4 separate regions of the Homo sapiens genome follow, and all the other regions are reported to be linked to region 2. Evidence: microRNA targets listed by miRTarBase, many of them from high-throughput screens and not tested one by one. Region 2 holds a microRNA gene; each other region holds the end of a gene's coding sequence.

Region 1 (3,116 bases), not on the chromosome of region 2:
GCCACCACTGGGCTAGAGTGAGCTTTGTGACACTTCGAGCAACAACCTCTGGCAGTGCCGGTGGGAAAGGATCTGCTGGGCCAGGTGCGGAGCTGTTTTTATTAGTGAGTCGGGGGGTGGGGTGGGGTGAAGAAAACATCAGAGACACCTGTGCTGCGAGTTAAATACATTTCCAGCATCTCACGCATCACAAGCTGCATCAGGAAAGGGCACAGCATGTGGCAGCCTCATCCACACCCACGCAGTGACAGATGTGTTACAGCATGGACACCAAGTCCCCGGGAGCCAAGATGGCAGCTCCAGCATCCCTCCCTTCCTCCCTTCCTCCTTCCCGGGCTGGGCCGGGCCATGCAGAGAAAGGGCAGCCTCTGCCATGGCAGCCCCAAATCACCTCTCAGAGCAACTGTCTGGGGTCCCCAGCCCCAGAACTCCAGCAGAGTCCTGGCCTGGGGAAGCCCCCGTGCCGCCTCAAGCCTCCAGCAGGGCAGGCCCCTGGCCAACTGTGGCATCTGCCTTGACTGCCCAGAGCAGCAGGAATCAGGTTTTGGGAGGACACAAGGCAAGGCAGTCATCTGACACACCCACGGCAGTCCAGCTGGCACTGAGTGTGTGGGCCTCGTCCTGTCTGGAGTCCCCTCCCTCCCACAGTGGGCGAGACGGGAAGGCCTGGCGGTGACCAGACAAGTGGGTCCAGGTCTCAAGGCAGCCTGGCCCATGTCCTGCAAGGCTCTGAAGAGCCACCCAGCTGTTAGTCTGCCCACTGCACAGGGCCCCGGGCCTCTCAGGTTGACAACTAAAGGTGTGTGGGCTGTGGGGCTCTTGCAGATGCTTCCCAAAATCACCAGTCATTTCTACAGACACAGAAATCGAGACACTGAACAGAGAACAAATGGTGTCATTCGATAAAGCTGATGAGTCTGCTTCTCACATGGCACCCAGATCGTAAGGCAGTGGGGTCTGTAAAATCATCGCGGTGGCTGGCCGTGTCCTCATGAGCCAAGCACACTGACTCCCGGGAGTGGTGTGCACGCACATGTGGTGCCTGGACATACACGAAGACACATGGACGTGGGGGTCTGACCTGGACATTCACAACGGAAACGTCTACAACAGAAGGCGCCCAGGACCCACCTTTCTGGCGCATAAATGAAGATTTTTGGCTCAAAAACCTAAGCATCCTCCAGCTTTTGCTACCATCTGTCCCTCGGCTGGCTGAGGACTGCCGATGCTTCCCAAGCAGAGGCGTCTGGTCCACTCCTGGGGCTCCACCTGCCTGTCACTGCAGCACCAGCGTGCACACGATGGAAACCCCACCGATGCCGCTCTCCTCCGCTTGGCCCCGCTGAGCCAGGGTGAGGTGCTGCCACTGCCTTCAGCCTACAGGCTGCTTGCCTGAAGGGGTCTCCACATCTCCACCCCCACAAAGCAATCCAACAGCAGTATGAAGAGACGCAATTCTGCCAATTCTAAGGTCACATTAAAACTTTTCCCCCCAAGATTATGATCACTGCCAGCTGGAGAACCCAACGCCCTTGCACATGCCAAGCTGCATCCTGGCATGATATGGTTTTACAAGATGCTGCGTCATAGAAAGTGACCGTGCCGTTCAAGGAAACGCACATCGGTTGGCTTCCCAAGTTTTCGGGTCTCCGAACCAGTGACAGTCACGTGTCGCTCAGTGACACATGAGAAACGTGTGCTTAGCCGCTGCTGTGTGATCACAGAGTCTTTACACAAGCCTCGATGGTGCATGTAGTTTTATTTATGTGTTTTCATCTGGAAAACCAAGTGTCCCAGCAGCATGACTGAACATCACTCACTTCCCCTACTTGATCTACAAGGCCAACGACGAGAGCCCAGACCAGGATTCCAAACACACTGCACGAGAATATTGTGGATCCGCTGTCAGGTAAGTGTCCGTCACTGACCCAGACGCTGTTACGTGGCACATGACTGTACAGTGCCACGTAACAGCACTGTACTTTTCTCCCATAAACAGTTACCTGCCATGTATCTACATGATTCAGAACATTTTGAACAGTTAATTCTGACACTTGAATAATCCCATCAAAAACCGTAAAATCACTTTGATGTTGTAACGACAACATAGCATCACTTTACGACAGAATCATCTGGAAAAACAGAACAACGAATACATACATCTTAAAAAATGCTGGGGTGGGCCAGGCACAGCTCACGCCTGTAATCCCAGCACTTTGGGAGGCTGAGGCGGGTGGATCACGTAATCCCAGCACTTTGAGGGGCAGAGGTGGACAGATCATGAGGTCAAGAGATCAAGACCATCCTGGTCAAAATGGTGAAACCCCGTCTCTACTAAAAATACAAAAATTAGCTGAGCTTAGTGGCACACACCTGTAGTCCCAGCTACTTGGGAGGCTGAGGCAGGAGAATCGCTTGAACCCAGGAGACACAGGCTGCAGTGACTCGAGATCACGCCACTGCACTCCAGCCTGGCGACAGAGCGAGACTCCATCTCAAAAAAAAAAACCAACAAAAAAACTGGGGTGAAAATCTAACGGATAATTCAGCATTGCCGCATAGAAACCTCCGCAAAACCGGCCAAACAAACGCGGACAGGCGGCCCTGGCGTCAGCGCACGACAGTCACGTGGGGAGGGGCAGTGGCCAGGTCGGCCTTGGACGGGTACACCACCTTCAGGCTCCCTTCCAGATCCACCACCCGGACCTGCTCCACCACCAGAAGGGAGGGCCCGTCCTTTCCAGCACTGGGATTCGTTGTGGGATCTGGAAGTTGTCCAGAGACTGCATCGGCTTCAGTATCTGAGAGTGATCCTTCCTCTTTATTTTCTAAAGTGTACTTTTTCATTTCTGCCATTTTCTGCAAATAAAAAATACCTTTTTAACCTGGAGATGAGAGGTGACCCAGGGAAGACATGCTGCTGTCTGCCAACACAGTAAGCAAAAAAGAGGCAAGCAGGACGGGTGGGAAGTCAAGGAGCAGAGCACCACTCACGCTCAAAAGCGTTTCTCAGGAGGAGCCACCCCACACTCACCAGAATGAGGGCATCCATGACATCCTTGCAAATCTGCAGACTGGTGGCACTTGTTACTTCCAAAAACAAATCAGAAGTCGTT
Region 2 (3,116 bases):
TTATACACCTATTTTCTTATTGTTTTCTTGTTTGTCCCCCTGACTGGAATGTAAGCCCCCAGAGGGCAGAGAGGTGGCTTTATATTCAGAGATGGACCCTACACATCCAGGACAGACCCATTGAGGAGGGAGGGACTGGCTGGGCTGCCTGGAACCTTATACTTCAGACTAACTCTTGCGCCCACAGTGCCCTGGGCAGTCCTAACATCCCTTTGTTTGTGTGCCCAGAGCATCAGACTCCAGCCAGCCATTATCTCAGGCGATTTTATCTCTCTAAGTATCTGTTCTGCTCCTACGTGAGCTACTTTGAATTCCCAGGCACCCAGCCTGGAGGCGCTGAGCCTGCCAGGAGCTTGGTAAGGGTGGCTCAGCGGCACCCATGGGTGGAGTGAGTGGCAGGACTTACAGAGCCGGGACTTCAGCTCTGAGGGCTCAGGAAGCCTGATCTCACCCCATTCCTGCTGGGCTTATTCACTTGCTCTAGGCCTGGCTCAGAGTAGGTGAACCAGACGGACGCTGCCAGGGTCCCCAGCCCAGCAGGGGACACAGAGAAGGTGACCAACACGAAGAGCTCTTTTTAGTTGGAAAAAGTGCTCTGAAGGCAGCCAGCGGAGTCGAGTGATGCAAAGCATCAGGGTGATGCGCTTTACACGACATGGCTGGGGAGGCCCCTCAGAGGCAGGGGCAGCCTGAGAGCTGAAGGATGTGGGGGCCATCCTCATGAAGCGAGGAGAGCAGCGCCCAGTGCTGGAAGGCCCCATGCAGAAAGTTGCCTTGTGTGTTCCCAGGTAGCTGGGGTAAGGAAACCCCACCCAAAGCAGGGTGAGCAACCTGCCCATGGTACACCAGGGCTGGAACGCAGGGCCCCAGTCCCAGCCAGCCTCTGCCCACTACGCCAACCAATTTCCTCTCTGCTCACAAGGCTGAGATCCTTATCATCACACACAACAGAGGGTGGGTGCAAAGGTCAGGAGAATCCATGAGCTGTGTCCAAGCCTTCCCGAAGGACCCCCTGCCTCTGGCCTCTCCCCTCCGGCCAGGGTTACTCACCCCGCCACCACCTGGGGCGCTGCGCTGTATGGAGACTGGGGCTGCAGGCTCCTTGTAGCCACCATAGGACTGGGCCACCGGCTGCTGCTGGGGCTGCTGGTAAACTGGAAGATGGGAGGAGACAGGGCTTGGAAACTGTCCTGCCAAACCCAGCCCCTCCCAGAGCTCCCGAGAAGTCCATACCATGCACTTCCACCCCGCCCCCAACCTGGCTCAAGCCCCACAGCTCAAAGGCTGATGTCCACGTGTGCACATTTGCCTGTGTGTTGTATCCCACGCAGGGGCTCTGAGCCCCATGACCTGGGGGCCTCTCCTTTCAATCCTCTTGGCCCAGTACAGGCCTGACCCTGGTGCTCACGTCCTCATTCTGGATGAGAATGGAACTTGGGGTCTTGGGAAGCAGTCTTTTCCTCGCCTGCATGCGTGCGTGCATGTGTGTGTGTGTGTGTGTGTGTGTGTGTGTGTGTGTCTGTCTCTCGCCGACTTCCTCCCCACCCCAGCTGGCCCGGCCTCAGGTCCTCTGGTCCCCTCTTGCACACAAGAGGCATAATCGCCTGTTGATTAAGAGCAAGGCTCCGGAAGGTGTATCTGTCTGTCTGTCTTCTCCTGGCTTCCTCCCCACCCCACTGGCCTCGCCTCAGGTCATCTGCACCAACAGGACCTGCACTCACCCGGGGCACTGGTCGGGATGTGGTGAGGCTGCTGCTGCTCCAGGGGCCGCCGGTAGCTGCTGCCGTCCTGTGAATCCCGACGCTCTGGCTCCATGCCCTCGCCCCCGCTAGGGCCCATGCGGCTCTTCTCAAACTCCTCATGGTATTTTATCTGCAAGGTCAGAAGGCACTAGGTGAAGGGTCCCACTGCAAACCACCCAGTTCCTTCCCGTGACCCTCAAGATCCCAGGATGGGAGAGACTACCCAAGAGCTTTGGGTACAGAAAGCCAGGTCTCGCTCTGGAAGCACCAGCTGTGTGTCCTTGGACAAGCTACCTAATCTTGCCAAGCCTCAGTTTTCACCTCTGCAAAATGAGACACCAGTCTCCCTCAGACACTGTTGGAGAATGCAATGAAATGACCGATGTAAAAGGACCATGAGAACTGAAGAATCAGACCAAAGTGAGTGGTCCCTTTTCTTTTTTTTTTTTTTTCGAGACGGAGTTTGGCTCTGTCGCCCAGGCTGGAGTGCAATGGTACGATCTCAGCTCACCGCAACCTCCACCTCCAGGGTTCAAGTGATTCTCCTGCCTCAGCCTCCTGGGCGGCTGGGATTACAGGCGCCTGCCACTACGCCCAGCTAATTTTTTGTATTTTAATAGAGACAGGGTTTCATCATGTTGACCAGGCTGGTCTCAAACTCCTGACCTCAGGTGATCCACCCGCCTCGGCCTCCCAAAGTGCTGGGATTACAGGCGTGAGCCACCGTGACCGGCCAAGTGGTCACTTTTATATGCCTGCGGCAGGGGCGGGGCTGCTCTGTTTCCGCCTGGGTCCACAGTAACCACAGCAGCAGCCCGTTTCCTGAGCTCTTACTGCGCCAGGGCCGTGCTAGGTGTTTTATGTCACAGGCTCATGTGAGCTCGTCAGCGCCCCTGAGGGGTAGATTGCAGACCCCATGTAACAGGCAAGAAGGAAGCGAAGGGATTGATAAGTGAAGTGAGTGGCCCAAGATCACAGATTCCAGAGCCTTGCTCTTCATCAACAGGCGATTCCACCTCTTGTGTGCAAGATGTCGTGGGTACTACAGCCTAGGATGCTCCGCTGAGAATCCCAGCCTTTAGGGATAAAAACTGCCAGACCCTCCCTGAGGGCGGGACATTGTCTTGGATGGGCTCCTTCTCGGGTCAGGTTCCAAAAATGAGCAGAGAGGCCCAAAGAAGTCATATCCCTCAGGACCACCCCACTAGGCGGGCATGTGAGGCTCCAAGCCTTCAAGTCAGTCTCTTGCCCCCACAGTGCTCTACTGGCTACAGAGTCCCCCACCTTGACCACCACCACCCAGGAGTCTTGAGTTGGGCCTCATGTTGTTTGAGGGCTGTGACTGTGCCTGCCTGGGGCTGGCTGCATTAGCCA
Region 3 (3,104 bases), not on the chromosome of region 2:
CTGGGATTCCAGGCGTGAGCCACCTCACCTGGCCAGCAGTTTATATTTAAAATTCTTTATTCAGATCAATGTATCAGGATATCAGGAAATTTTGAAAATGGTAAACTCTTAATCTTCTGCTATACGTAGAAAATGGCATTCTCATTTAGCAAATCACATAGTTCAAATACCCAGTCCCAGCCCTATGCATAAACAAAGAAAGCAATGAATAAAATTAACCACACAGTTTTGCTTTCAACTAATGCTACATGAAGATTAAATAGTAAACAGTTAACCATAATAACATATTGTCTTTATACCCAGAAAGCAGTGGAGGACTGTGAATGGCCTCTGATCATTATAATCAATGTTCATTGACATTGTACTAAGCAAAACATAAATAATAGGATTAATGTTTTTATGTTATTAGTAATAATCTGTAACATATATCTAAATATTACCAACTACATTTTTTATGAGTTTATAAGTAGTGCTGTCTTATATACATTTATTAAGAGAATTCATTCTTTATATCAAAAAGGTAAAAAAATTACTATGATTATGAACTATTAAATCTGATGTAATTTTTTAAAGTAATCATCTAATTCTTAATAATAAAACATTTCTCTCTTCAGGTGCGGTACGGGTCACTAAAATACAAAGTGAAGAAACGACCACAAGTGTATTTTTAGTCATCTACACGTCAAATATCCCAAGACAGATTATGCTAAATACATCGACTTCATCTTCTAACATGATATATTCAGGATTTACACATTAAAATGATTATTTAAATTGTGGCAGTGATGGGGTTTACTTTCATGAATTTAAATTGTTTTTATTTCTGTAACAATTGCTTCCAAATATTGACTACTAAAGGCAGTTCTGCAAGATGTACTAAATATGTATATTAGAAATTATAGAAAATCATGTTGTCCGTTTTCAAATTCATCAACAGCCTAGAGTGCCTGAGATATAAGATGAAACACAAATCCACAGTATACTTGAAAGGAGCCTTTTTACGGTTCAGGATAAATCAGCCTTTGTGATGTACTGTGTTTACCTCCTTTTGTGTTGTATCTGGTAATTAAATAGGCCTCAGATTCAGCAGTGACATAACAAGGACATAATGTAAGATAATAAAGTAGGTTTTATATATTCTTTAAATTTTTACTTATATAATACTTTCTAGTTTTTCCACCATCAGCTGAAAGTTTTTGAAACAAATATTTGAAAACCAGGTATCCACACATAGCACTTTTATTCCTGACTAGTTTTGCACACTTGAAAATTGTTTACTTATTTTACAACTGTTTTACTGATGCTATCTTTATTGTTTTTGCCGTATTCTGACATGTCAAATCTATGCCTTGAATTATATCATCTCTTTTCCTGTGGGTTTCATTTGTTAAATTCATTGGATTTTAATAATATAAAAGTATAGCTAATTGTTCAGTTTTAACTATTTTTAATTATCTTCTTAACAAATAAGAAGTTGCTTTAAACATTAACCAATTTTCTATATTTAGCTATACAGAGTAATTGAACTTAACATGTTTTTGTCAACACCAATTACATTTTCAGCTTTTAAAAATGGTAGCTTTTGTGAAATAGAATCAGTGACCAGTATAGCACTTAGATCCCTTCTAACTCATATAATTTTTCTCAGCCAATCCATTCACAAGCTTGGCATTGACATGTGCTGCTAGTTTATAAACTGGCATTGACGAAAATCATTTGAATCTCTTCTGGCTGAGATAATTTGCCAATGCAAAATACAGTTGTCATTAATCCTGCACATTAGAAATTATTAGAAACATATTACTTTTTAACTTTAAATCTCAAAGAGATTTTGAGTTATTGAATTCTTAAGGCTTTCTTAGCTTGAACTGATAACTATGCATTATGAACCCTAAGTCAATATATTTTTGGTGGTTTTAGTGATCAGTAATCAAATTTGTACTTATTATGCTTGTTCAGGTAATTTACTTGACTGTTCTATTTGTTTGTCCAAAAGATAAAATGATGAGAGAGATTCGAGAGGTCTTTGATCTGTCTCCCTTTTAAGAAATGAAGCCAGCTGGTAATGTATATTCAGGACTTCCTCAGAGTATTGGCCAAGAACATAATGTTTACACAGGAGTACCTTGGTATAATGCATACATTGTCTCATGATACTAGTCATAAAATATTTTATGGATTATTTCACATTCTTCATATATAACAAGTAAAATTAATTCAGTTTTCTTCTCCCAACGTTTAATTCTGAATAACTCTATCTACTTTACCCTAATTTTTAGCCTCTTAATTTCTGGAAGGACTCTAATTTCTATTCCAAATTTCTATGAATTCTAATTGTAAATTATCGGAACAGAGTTTTATTTATATGACCTGGTACTAGACTTCTTAATATAACTGTTACACTGTCCTTGTCTTTCCTACTCAAAGACAGTATCATCTGAAGTTGCCTAATAAGGTCATGTGAGTCAAGAACTTTATCTGTGGGAGCTGATTTGCACCATTTTACCTTTTTTTTTTTTTTTTTTTTGAGACGGAGTCTTGCTCTGTCACCAGGCTGGAGTGCAGTGGCGCGATCTCGGCTCACTACAACCTCTGCCTCCCGGGTTCGAGCGATTCTCCTGCCTCGGCCTCCCGAGTAACTGGGTCTACAGGCCCGTGCTACCACGCCCAGCTAATTTTTGTCTTTTTAGTAGAGACAGGGTTTAACCATGTTGCCCAGGATGGTCTCCATCTCTTGACCTCGTGATCCGCCCGCCTCGGCCTCCCAAACTTCTGGGATTACAGGCGTGAGCCACCGCACCCAGCCACCATTTTATCTCTCTAAAGTCTGGTCCCAGTATTAAACCTATTCTTTAGTAAACTCATATTACTGTTCTAAATTGAAGAAATTATTTATTACTCTGTACTTCTAGACTCAAAATTCTTTATCAAAGATAGTCTCAAAGAGGTAGTACAAGTCCTGTTTAACTGCACTTTTTCACATTCACAGTGCTTCCTCTGATATCTTTCCTTACATCATTATACACTGTTGATATCATTTTACTCTTCTTTCTCTTCTACATTTCTTAAATTTTGGTTCTTTTCCTGTACATGTGTTTTAGCGG
Region 4 (3,116 bases), not on the chromosome of region 2:
ATCCAAAACATTAGTATTTGGTTTTAGTCATTTCTTTTGGCCTTTATCAAGGGAAATATTTATTTAAAGAAGGTCTCATTTACTCCACCTCATTTAGAATGACTTTTCCCCCCCGTGTGTTAATAAACGTATTTCTTTACATTGCTTTAAAACACTTGCATCTTTGCTCTTTTCTAACTCTGAGCTTTCTTCTGTGGCTGCATCTGAGGTGCTTTTTTCAGGTATAGTTTTTTTTTTTCTTTCATTGCATAATTTTTCAGCATTTATTTTTAGTTGCCCCTTTTCTTCCAAAAATGCTCATCTGAACAAAATTTTAATGTAATGAATTATAAAATAGTACTAGTAATAAATATGAATGTTGTTTGATTAATACTTGTGTAAATGTTTAAAGTGTCTTTATTTTATTTCATGCAGGTGATGAAACTTATCAGGACATATTTCGTGATTTTTCCCAAATGGCATCCAATAATCCAGAGAAACTAAATCGTTTCCAGCAAGATTCACAGAAATTCTGAATTTTTTTAAAAATGGGAAAATATGAAATCTGGTGACCCCCTAATGTATACAGCTAAAAAATCACAATTTTTTTACTGCTTTAATTCTACTTAATTTTGGTAGATATTGAATGGCTTGGAAAAGAGGTACCCATTCATATATTTATAAATTAAAACATAGTTATCTAGTAGTAGGAGAGGAACCTAGTTTAGGACCTCTTTTATTAAAAAAGCCTATTTAAAGGGCTATTTCTGTAGACAGAAGTTCAGTCTAGATTTAGGCCATCTCTAGGTTACAAGATGATAGGAGGTTAGACAAAAGTGATTCTTTTGCCAATGGGTGGTGGCATTGATTTTTTTCCTCCATGCATCTTGCCCAGGATCACTCAGTCAAGCATGTCTTCATCAAGTGGAAGCCAACTGTCCTGCCTGCCTCAAGAATATGTGTTTTCTTTAGCTTCCCTGAGGCTTTTTGGTGGTTCAGAAATAGGTGTGTGTGTTGATGTGTTTTTGGTAACCTAGCTTTCATACACATAATATATGATTTATTAGAACTAGAGAATGTGTTTTCCCCGTTTGTTCATAAATGCGGTCGGTTATACTTCTTAGGTGACAGGTTATTGTCCAGTACTTTAATGTATGTATGTATAATGGCTGTACAGGTAGACCATAATTCAGTCCTTTAGATTTATTTTATGCAGCAAAAAGAAGCTCTTTTTTTTTTTTAATCACAAAAAAAAACCCCAGTTCAAAATGTGTAGTTCTTCATTGTTGGGTTGATTCCCCAAAACCTTGACAGATGTATCGATGGAATAAAAGTATGTTTTAAAGGTTACTTGAATGTCACAAAATTATGCCTTCATCAAAACTTTAAAGGAAAAATCAATTTATAAAATCATGTAGGCCATTTTTATATTTGAAATTTGTCCTTTTAAAGATAGTTTTGCTGTTGCTCCTAGTGAAAGAAAAATCTCTGTACAAAGGAGAAAAAGAACCCCACTTATTCTTAGTTAATACTAAAATATATAGCAATAAATTGCTGTTTATTTTTTCTACATCTATTTTGTGTACTTGTACACAGTGTACATTCTTTTAAATTATATCGTGTATATAGCTTTAGTATTCGGTTACATGATTCACAGACCCCTGAATTCCAAAATATTATGGATAAACATTACCATTTATATGCTACAAATTAGTCTGATTCCATCTTTGAAAATGTCTTAAAGTATAAAATAATTAATTTGCTTTTTTTTTTTTTTTTTCCCGAGATGGCGTCTTGCTGTGTCACCCAGGCTGGAGTGCAGTGGCACGATCTCAGCTCACTGCAGCCTCCTCCTCTTGGGTTCAAGCAATTCTCCTGCCTCAGCCTCCCGAGTAGCTGGGACTACAGGCACCCGCCACCATTCCGAGCTAATTTCTATATTTTTAGTAAAGACGGGTTTCACCATTTTGGCCAGGTTGGTCTCGAACTCCTGACCTCAGGTGATCAGCCTGCTTTAGCCTCCCAGAGTGCTGGGATTACAGGCGTGAGCCACCGCACCCAGCCTAATTTGCCTTTTGATTCCTTCCCATTGTTGTCAACAATTAAGTCTATTCTTCTTTTAGAAATTATATGTAAATGATATTATTGATACTCTTTCTAAATAAGAGGTTTTAAAATATATAAAAACTTTATGATCCAATTATAGATAAATTTTCTAACATTTCCCAGTCACTAGGGTTTTATAAGTTGATTAAACATCAAATCAGAATCTAGCCAAGCAGGAATTATATTGAAATAAGTTCACATTACAGAAAAGGTTCCATAATTTGGCCAAACTGCATGCATGTAATGCTTATTTAGTAATGGTCACTGTATGTTAGATAAGGATAAAAATATATTTGTGAATTACTTCTGAGGAAATGCTAACTTCCACAGCATTGTATTTAATTATAACAATAACAGGAACATTAAATCTTTATCTTTGCTGTTTCACCTCAAAGTCATAGATCATCTGGCTTTTTAGGCACCTTCACTAAAGGCAAAAATCTGATTTGTAGTTTTTATTAGCATGTACCTTGAAATTATTTGACCAAGAAGCTCAAAGAAAAGAAGTACGTTAAAGAAAAAGAAAAAACCTCACTTTTCCTTTATAGTGTCCCTTCCTGTTTTAATTCCTAAAGATCCTGACTTTTATCTGAGGAAGTCTAGGTAGTTTTCCTTTTGGATCTGGCCATTGGTGCGTGTTTCATTCAGATCACCTCTGGAATCTCTGTGGTTGTGAAGGCAATTCCTTATGAGACTCTTGCCTCCTGTGGCTTACGTGATGAATTGTTAATATGGCAGTAATTAATTAGTATCTACTTAAATTTAGTGGTCAGAAATGTATTTGAAGTGCCTTAAAGATGATCATGGTTCAGAATATCTTCAGAGAAAGCAAAATCTTTAATATTGCAGGGAGCCTAGCAATACAAGTACACATTTCTGTGGCTTGATTTCTTGAATATGCTGAGACCCAATTTGGACTACATTTGGCAGAAATGATGGAGTAAACAGCAAGGCTTTAAATTAAATTAATAGTTACAAGGTAGGTTGGCTCTTAGGTGAATTTAGCCATGTCAACTAATAGCTTTTATATG

What was found. The annotated mature microRNA hsa-miR-6779-5p reads CUGGGAGGGGCUGGGUUUGGC and lies in region 2 at 1,193-1,213, opposite strand. An mRNA with a match to its seed (bases 2 to 7 or 8) in the 3' UTR can be bound and repressed. Matches are read on the target gene's strand: a 7mer-m8 pairs with bases 2 to 8, a 7mer-A1 pairs with bases 2 to 7 and ends in A, and an 8mer does both.
Region 1: miRTarBase lists LRRC47 as a target of hsa-miR-6779-5p. Seed matches in the 3' UTR shown: 8mer at 2,390-2,397, 8mer at 2,217-2,224 and 8mer at 545-552.
Region 3: miRTarBase lists REEP3 as a target of hsa-miR-6779-5p. Seed matches in the 3' UTR shown: 7mer-A1 at 2,229-2,235 and 8mer at 2,761-2,768.
Region 4: the mRNA of ACAP2 is a reported target of hsa-miR-6779-5p. Seed matches in the 3' UTR shown: 7mer-m8 at 1,998-2,004.

What each region holds. Positions count from the first base shown.
Region 1 is chr1:3,778,478-3,781,593 of GRCh38, forward strand. LRRC47 (leucine rich repeat containing 47) reads right to left here. Exons shown (of 7, transcript NM_020710.3): 6 at 3,035-3,116; 7 at 82-2,859. The coding sequence ends at 2,611. Among named protein-coding and RNA genes, the nearest start is that of SMIM1, 7.3 kb to the left of the region's middle.
Region 2 is chr17:38,913,081-38,916,196 of GRCh38, reverse strand. It overlaps MIR6779 (microRNA 6779), which reads right to left and starts at 1,218; the gene lies at 1,155-1,218. It overlaps LASP1 (LIM and SH3 protein 1), which reads right to left. Exons shown (of 7, transcript NM_006148.4): 5 at 1,722-1,872; 6 at 1,051-1,154.
Region 3 is chr10:63,620,199-63,623,302 of GRCh38, forward strand. REEP3 (receptor accessory protein 3) reads left to right here. Exons shown (of 8, transcript NM_001001330.3): 8 at 615-3,104. The coding sequence ends at 671. The region is part of intron 1 of LOC105378329 (a long non-coding RNA gene); the gene reads right to left. Among named protein-coding and RNA genes, the nearest start is that of REEP3, 100 kb to the left of the region's middle.
Region 4 is chr3:195,276,727-195,279,842 of GRCh38, reverse strand. ACAP2 (ArfGAP with coiled-coil, ankyrin repeat and PH domains 2) reads left to right here. Exons shown (of 23, transcript NM_012287.6): 23 at 415-3,116. The coding sequence ends at 515. Among named protein-coding and RNA genes, the nearest start is that of XXYLT1, 7.1 kb to the right of the region's middle.